Regions from separate parts of the Homo sapiens genome. Here region 2 is linked to region 1. The links come from fine-mapping of genetic effects on gene expression. A gene starts in region 1. The other region holds a variant in brackets. All regions are shown on one strand. Distances are from middle to middle.

Region 1 (4,384 bases):
TGGGCCATTGAGGAATTAGCACTCAAAATTAAACAACAGCTTAAAGGATAAATCTTTAGTTAAAACGTCAAATGTTGCTACCTTTGATAGAGAATCTGCATTCTAGTATTTGTCCTATTCCCTGCAAGAATGGCACGCAGACACCTGAAATTTCTCCCCAACAACCCCATAGGCTTAATGCAAAGCTACTACTAAGGTGACGGCGCTATACATAGAGTTATTTTCAGTCTTACTGTGTTATTTGGCATATGTTATTTAAAATTATTTTTCATCTCCTCTGTGTGTTTTTGATTTGCCTCTTCCATTTATTGCATGATCTGTTACACCAGGCTAATGGACTCAGGCTCAGCTGACACTGCTTCAGTAACTTGTTTGTTAATTTAGCTAATGGGCTGCCTCTTTTGTGTCCTTTTAGTTTCTGTTGCTCAACATTTCTGTTTCTCCTCCCAAAGTTTGCTTACAAATTTCCCTTTGCTGTGTTTAACAGCCTCTAAGGGATGCAGTTAAATAAACTATTAAGTTAAGAATAGAAAAGTCAACAAAGCAGACACCTACTAATTTGTAGATCTTTGGTGTCAACTACCAGATGTCAGCTCCTACTAGCACACTTCTATATGCCCCTGCTTCTTTCTTTCTTGTTCACAAATACCAAGGGATAATTTTTTAAAGTTAACATCCGCATGGAAACTTGGAGTTGGAATGTGCCTTGTAGTGAGCAGAGTCCTCAAAAGATGTGCTACTACTGAAAGAGGAAAGGCTAAGAGTTTCCCAAAAGACCTCCCCAAGGTCCAGGGACTGAAGACAGTAATGACTGATTTTAGAATTGAATGCTAAATGGCACATGTCAGGGGAGCGTCTTTCATTTTCCTCTCCTCTCTCTTTACCTCTCCTTCTCACAGTGCATAACGTTGAATATTTTTCTGTGTTGTTTTGTTATGTCCTTAGAGTTTGCATCTTGTGTGTGTACTCTGCTTGCACACTAGATTATGAGCTTCTGAAGGCATGGTCTGTGCCTATTATTTTGCTTCCCTCCATGGCCTGCTTATACCAAGCATGCCTAAATGTCTATTAAGTAAATAGACCCAGATAAATTCATGTTGATATCCTGGAGGAAACCGAGTTTGATTTGAGTGTGGAGTGTGAATTTCATGACAGGTAAAAGGCTTGAAGATCCTTAGGACGCAGTTGTCTATGACCTTGGCCTCTCCTTTGCAATTGGACTCACAGCACCTCTTGGAGAAAAGACAGGCTCAGAGTGATGGAGCGCTCATTAGAGGAGAGGCTCTGAATGCAAAGACAGGCTGCTCCCCTGTCCTCGTTAGGAAATGCACAAACCAGGATAATGATAATAAATGGGTGTGTGTCACAAGCCTACTTGCCTTCCCTTTAGTTCCTGCATTTTGTCTTCCAGGAGCAGTGCAAAGCAAACTAAGATCCAAATGTTCAGGTTTTATTACCTACCCCCCCCCCCCACCACAACCACCCACCCACCCACAGGAAACTCTCAGAAATGCAAAGCATGCTTATCTCTTCTCCAACTCCGAGCCTCCCGCTGCACACATTGGCCAAGTCCTTCCGAGGGAAAGATGCGCACCCCCCCTTCCTAGTTCCCTTTCAGCCCAGTTTCCAGTTCCTTTGCAAAGGCAGGGCGTGCATGTTTTTGTGCACATGCATGTGGATAGTCATCCTTAACTTCACTGTTAAACAGGACATCGTGTGGACAAAAAGTCACAGCTCCACTCCAAGCTCAAGATGCCTTTTGGTCAATAATGGTGACAAAAGCTGAATTTTTCCCTATTTAGGGAAAAGAAAGAACACAGCCTTTTCCCCCACTGTCCGTTTTGCATAGATCTCCTTTTTCCGAGTGTTTCCTCTTTAATTATGACCTGTCTCCCCTCCCTCTCCCCTCGCCTCAGCTTCAGTGAAAGGAGTCCTTCTGTCACTCGTCACTAGCTCGCTCGCTCACTGTGGGAGGAGCCCGCCTGAGGAAGCCGTGTGCCTGGGATGCCAAGAGCCAGAGAATGGATCTTCTCCGAGTGGGGACATTGCTGACAATCCCGGCTTCCCGAGGCGGCTAAGAACAGGCAGTTTGTGTCGGCTGGCTGCAGATACCCAGAGGCACAAAGAGACCGAAGCCACCCGGAGGGACCCACGGACGGACAGATGGTAGGCGCGAACCCGAGAGGACCGGCGGAGGCTGAGCACCGAGAGCCGCCAAGGAAGAGAAACTAACCACAGCCAAGTTACCCCGCCGGCTTTCCTTCGCTGCGCTAAGGAATGAAACCCTTCCAGCTCGATCTGCTCTTCGTCTGCTTCTTCCTCTTCAGTCAAGGTAGGACCCCTGCGCTGCTGGAGTTGGAAGAAAGTCGGCTGGGTTGTCAGGGCGCGGGAGGCTGTGGGCAGGAACGTGGGCAGGCTTCGGGAACTCGGACTGATGGATGCGTCTCTCGGTGCCGGGCTGAGATGCTCTGGCATTGCCTCTTCGCCTTTGCGAATGCAACAAAATGGTACTGTTTATTTTCCTTTGGAAAGAAGGGGTATGGGAGGGGAGGGGAATGACTTTCTCCTCTCACTTGTCAATATCCAGCTCAAACTCTCCAATGCAAATGAGTTCTTTATGCTTCTGGTATGTTAATTAGGTAGTATCTCTGTGGTTATGCCGCTCTGAACTTCTGGGCACCTCCTCTCCTTCAGACCCAGGCCAGGGAAGGAGACGGCAGGGAGGGAGAGCTTGGTTTAGGTGGATATTTCAGCTTGAATAGGGTTTGACTTGCACAAGTGTATTCAAAAGCGAATGTGTGTGGTTTGCACCGTTGAAAAGGGGGTTGCAATTACAGAATGTATTGTGGGGGGTAATTTGCAGTGGTTGGGAAAAGCTTGTAAAGAGTTTCATTGAACGTCATCGAGTTCCCTAAATTAGGTTGAATTCTGAATCCTACACAGCACTGAATTCAGGGTATAAAATGAAATTTCGCCCGTGGTGCTGATGGTTTCCTTTCTGCAGCCTAGCAGGGGCAGAGAAGCAGGTGGACTCTCCGGAAAGAACTTTGCCACCTCTAGGCTCCTTGCCACTGGGAGCCCTGGGGCTGGTAGTGGTGCAGAAAGGAGAGGGAAATTCGGGAGAGGGAATGTGAGTGCCTAGTTGGCCAAAGGCATCAAAAGTCACCTGTGGAATTGAGTTTGGAGGGGCAAGTACATGGGCTCCTTCCCGCTCTTTTGGAATGCCAATGCACCTCTGCCATCTGAGGCTGCATTTGTGCCAGCCAACACAGCTCTTAGAGGTGCAAGACTCAGAAAAAATCCACAACAGAGCACGTCCATCTGTTGATTAAATGAAGGGTAAAAGTTTTCGAGAAAGCAAAGCACTGCCATGGGTGGCTGGCTTTGCAAGCAAACAGCATGTCTTCTGTTTCTCCCCTGTCGGGGAGAAGCCAAATATAAGCAAAAACCTGGCTTCCTTCTTCTGCTCTTCCACCCGTGCTTGTGGTCACTGCAGACTTTCTCCTTATCTGTGCAGTTCAAACTTTGCTTCTGGTCCTCCTGATGAAACCGAAGGGGCTCCTTCTTCATATTTGTATGTGCATACTAATGCCTGTGTATAATGATAATGTATGTACACACACACACACACACACACTCATGTATTCATATGGTTGTGTGCTTCTCACCAAGGCTCCCTACAGCAGCAGGAAGATAAATTGCCTTCCCCAGAGTTTCAGGCTGAATGAATAAGAACTCTCTCAGAACACTGGTATAGAGACAGGTTCAGTTATATTACCATTTGGTAAGATTACCCTCTTTCTTGGATGTGTATGTGCTTGCTTATGAGCACACACACACACACACACACACACACACACACACACACACTCCCATTCGTCTTTGCTTCTTACCAGTTCACTCAGGAAGTTTTGATATAGAACCCCTGAGAAGGAGGGAATCTTCCAACCAACCCCCCGTAAACACACAAACTCACATTTGCATGGGACCAGTGCATGCTTTAATCAGCCTTTTGTGTAGTTAGAAGCTTGATCCGTGATACTTATGTAGATTGGCATAAGAAGGCTATAGGTGTCTAAGTACCTCCCTGGCCGTCTGAATCATTACAGTGTACATCTTCTGTTGTGCTTATTTCTTTCTTGGTCTGGAGCTGTTTCTTGACTGCTTCATGTGAATCTTTAAATATTTACCTATGGAGGTTAAATGCTCTGTTTTATCTACCCCGAGTCCTGAGAGCGCTAGGAAGAAACCATAACATCATGCAGTTCTTAATGCCTTGTGCTCCTGGAGTGTTCTGAGCTTGGCCATCACTGTCCACCCTACCAAATGGTAGATACCTGGTCCAGAGGCTGGAAAACAGGTCTAAACAAAAATGAGGAGACCC
Region 2 (4,384 bases), 530 kb after region 1:
ACCTCACCATTCCTTCCTATGAAAGCAAGCCACAACAGAGGCTGTGCCCACACTCTCCCCACACCTCCCACCCCAGCCCCAACTGACCCTGGGGCCTCCCCTTCCTCTGGGAACTATGAGTAGCAAACTGTCTTTTCTTTTTTTCTTTCTTTTTTTATTTTTTATTTATTTTATTTATTTATTTATTTATTTTGAGACAGAGTTTCACTCTTGTTGCCCAGACTGGAGTGCAATGGCGTGATCTCAGCTCACCGCAACCTCCACCTCCTGGGCTCAAGTGATTCTCCTGCCTCAGCCTCCAGAATAGCTGGGATTGCAGGCGTGTGCCATCATGCCCAGCTAATTTTTTTTTCTTTTTTTGTATTTTTAAAAGAGACGGGGTTACTCCATGTTGGTCAGGCTGGTCTCAAACTCCCGACCTCAGGTGATCCACCTGCCTCAGCCTCCCAAAGTGCTGGGATTACAGGACTGAGCCACTGCGCCCGGCCGCAAACTGTCTTTTCAACGGCAGTTGTCTCCTGATCTGTTGGCCTCCCTCTACCTGAATAAAAACAAAATTCTGGGTACATTTTTAAACAGCCCCCACCAAACTCCACTCAACAAAACTGTGCATAGAGTCCCAGATGGGGTTAATGTACCACAGAGCCTCTAAGATGAATGAGGCCTTACAGTATACCTGGGCCAACCTCTTTTGTCTGCAGCTAGAAAATTGAGGCCTGGTGGGGAAGTGACTGTCCTTCTCAGTGGTGGAGTGGGCAGTGCCAGGCCTGGAACCACAATTCCTGACACCCTGGCCTCTGCCCTTGCCCATGCTCCTCCTAGGGCAAGCCGGTCCCCCAAGCTCCGCAGCTGGGGGCCCAGCCTCCAGAACGCCCGCTCGCCTCAGGTCTGAGGGTTTTCCTTGTCCTCAGAGACTGGGGAAATACACGGCCTGGTTCCCCCTACCCACCAGTCCTCTAAGCAATCCTGGAAAGATAAGCAGGGCCTTGGTCATCCGAGGATGTGAGGCAGGCCCGTCCCCACTCTGAGGGTGTGTCTTTCCTGTCCCAAACTGACCACCTGCCAAGAGGTCACTCCAGGGCTGCCGATCAAAGAACCCAGCACCTGGTGCCAGAACCCAGGGCAAACTCCTTCCCTCAGACACAAGTCCAGGGGGAGGGAGGGATGGCTGCCTCTTGGAAGACAAGCCTCTCCCTTATGTCCTGGGCTGAAGCCACCCTGTCCTGTTATGTAATACAAGGATATAACACAGAGAGAGAGTTGTCCAGAGGAGAATGAAAAGGAAGGATAGGGGCTTTCCTTCCAGTCTGAGCACCTGTCCTGTCCCTCCCTGAACTTGGGCCAGCCTGGACCCTAGCAGAGTCAATGTCCTGCAGAGGACACATGCCATCAGGTGGAGAGAGAGGTCAGGGTCACTCTGCTGGACCTGTCCCAGGATCACCTTGAGCTCAACATGTCATCCTTGTCTACATTGTGAAGGCCCCTCGGAGAGCCTGGTACCATACTACTGCACAGCAGGGCGGGGGACCCGATCCATGCTCCTGGGCCTGTGACGGGAACGGCAGCGCCAGGCAGTCGCAGGCCTGGGTTCCAGCTTCCACTGCATAACCTCAGGCAACTCACTCCCTGGGCATCTGTTTCCTCGTCTGCAAAATGAAGGTGTTGGATCAGACGCTCCGGAAGAGAAACAGATTCCTCAGGGGACAGTCACCTCAGATGGTCTCCTGCCCCTCTGTGGCTTGTCCAGGGAGCAGCAGAGGCCTGAGACCCTCAATGTGTCCCTGGACATGAGCATGGGA[A/G]GAGGCCCTGTGTCCCAAGGCAAGGCACTTCATTTCTCTGGGCCTCTCCTCCAAACCATGGTCATCCACCATCCTAACTGTCCACCCCACGGCCAGTGGTTCTCATGGAGACCAAAGGGGTGACCAGCAGAGCCCGCACACGTCAGTGGAGCTTCCCCAGGCACGGGGCTGTGTGCCGGGCAGGGAGAAGCTACAAGCCTGTGATGTGGAGTATACCCAGTAGGTTACACAATCCAGGGCTCCTATGGAGCAGGCTCTGGGGGCTGTCCGAGCCAACCCCTCTGCTTCCCCTCCCAGGGACCCAGCCCACCCCCTCCTCCCCCAGGGCTGCAAGGAGCCCTGCCATAGGCCAACAGCACTCCTGACTTCCCCAGAGAGGCTACATATGAGGAGGGGCCAGAGCATCAGCCGCAGAGAGGAAGAGAAGCTGGGAGCACACACAAAATCAGGCAGCCTCCAAGGACCCCAGAAAAGACCCCTCAGGGCAGCCCTGGCTGCTGTCGGGTCTGACGCCCTCAGTGGCTGTCACATGGTGGATGATTATCCCCGTGGGCTCAGGAGCTGGCAGCCTGAATTTGGATCCGGGCTCTGCCACCTTCCAGCTGCGTGACCTCACCTTGCCGTGCCTCCCTGTCCTTGCCATACAATGGGAACGACAGCAGCACCCACTTTAAGGGGTGCTTGTGAGGAGTTGAATGAGAAACACGCCTGGCACATAGCGAGCTTGCAACAAGCACTGCTGTTGGGATTGTCACCCCCTCACTGGATCCACACGGCTGCAAGGTCCACCCCACTATGGACCTCGCGTTTCCCATATGCAGACATCGGTGTCATAGTTAGGCTGGCCACATGGTTCTGAAGGCCTAGCTCAAACCTGGGATCCGTAACATAACATGGTGATGTCACCCTCTGCCTCAGTTTCCCCAGCTGCAAAATGCAGTGATAATGATCACGGATGTCTGTTAGGGTTGCAGAGTGACTTACAAGAAATTATGCATCAGAAGCACCCTGTCAAGGGCAGGAGTAAGGACTGGATAAATGTGAGCTACTATTATTGGCTCCTGTCCCACAGGGGGAACCCCAGTTCCCTGCCCCAGGGGTCATACAGCTATTTCATAAAACACCAGGCCTGTTCTCAAAGTTTCTGGGTTGCTCACCGACCATTCTCTCTGTGACTCCACCATGGGACCAGTAGGGGAGGGATGAGCCTCAGCCCTGGAGGGCACCAGGCCCCTTCCCCAGGAGGAAGGGCAGGAGAGGAAGCACCCAGTCCCTCCCCCAGCACAGGCTGGCCATGCTTCTCCTTAACAGGCCACTGTCACAGCCTCCAGGGTGCAGGGCGAGCCACACTGCCGGATGGGGCCTTGGGCAGTGCCCACTGCAGGCTCCCAGCGGGTGTCGGCTGCAGAGGCACAGAGCAGGAAAAGGCCCCTCCAAGCTTCTTCCTGGAGACTCAACCCTGGGCTGTCTGGGGACAGTGGGTTCCTTCCCTGTTCCTCATACTTCTGAGGGCCTGGCGCCAGAGTGGAGACCACATTCTTTCTTCTGGAAAGCCCCCAAGTCCACACAGCAGGGGAGGAAGGATGGGTTACGGAAGAGGAGGGGCGAGAGGACAGGCTGAGCCCAGAAAGAACCCTTCCTAAGTGCAGCTTCCTGCCAGGCAGGAGGGTTGCAAGGTCTTAGCACGCACAGTCGTGTCTGTGTCTGCTTGGAGCCCCTTGCCCTCTACCCCTACCACCAGGACCACTGGCCTCGCCTTTTACCACCTTTGCTAAGAGGAGCTCTGGAGACCCCACTCAGGAAAGGGATAAGTGCCCACATGCATAGGGCCCTCACCCTCCACTGGGCACCCCCTCCCTGGTCACTCACCCATCACCCTGCACCTATCTGCCCAGCTTAGGGGCCTAGAGTCTCCACTGGGTGTGGCCGAGGCTCATCCTGGCCTTCTCTGTGAAGGGCACCCCTCTGGCCTCTGGCCTCAAGGCTGGATGCAGGGACTGGGGCAAAAAGCACTGCGCATCCTCCACCTGGCCCACACACCCTTATTCAAGCCAGGTGGCAACCAGCCCATGGGGAGCCCCAAGCAGCTATCAAAAGGGGAAGCAGAGCCATGATTTTTTAAAAAAAAAAAAAAAGGGACCCAGCAGGTGGGGAAGGTGAGTAGCGGGGAGAAGCGAGGCGGCCTTGCTGCCAGGCAATCAGGCTACTCTCGGCCTTTCCAGACGGTTTGCCTGTCATCGGGCACCCCATATTTAGCACCAGTGCTTGGGCCCCCACCCCTTGTCTGCCCTCCAGCCCACCCATTTCCGAGAGCTCAGCCTGGCTCTCCACTGCCCAGAGGAGGCCCTGGGGGCTTTGGAAAGAGCAGAGTGGCCAGCCACTGCCACCCAAGCAGGAAAACCATGGGGTGGGGTACACTGTGTACAACCATACCTGGGAAGACCGGCCTCCCAGGCCGGTGCTGGGGAACTAGAGAAGTGAGTGCCAAATCCCTGCCCTTAGGGAGGGGCAGTGGGGGTGGGTGCACAGCCCTGAGGCGGCACCTGAGCAGGCAGCGTCCAGAGAGAACCTGGGGCCCCGCAGAG

The links. PIP is the estimated chance that this variant, and not a neighbour inherited with it, causes the effect.
Region 2: its variant is the best candidate, but not a certain one, in a credible set for the expression of KIRREL3 in nasal epithelium (TOPMed, PIP 0.67).

Annotation. Positions count from the first base shown.
Region 1 is chr11:126,998,403-127,002,786 of GRCh38, reverse strand. It overlaps KIRREL3 (kirre like nephrin family adhesion molecule 3), which reads left to right and starts at 2,017. Exons shown (of 17, transcript NM_032531.4): 1 at 2,017-2,332. The coding sequence starts at 2,278.
Region 2 is chr11:126,467,180-126,471,563 of GRCh38, reverse strand. The region is part of intron 5 of KIRREL3 (kirre like nephrin family adhesion molecule 3); the gene reads left to right. Among named protein-coding and RNA genes, the nearest start is that of KIRREL3-AS1, 74 kb to the left of the region's middle. RefSeq lists an enhancer at 4,173-4,384. The variant A/G (reference allele first, on the strand shown) is at 1,800.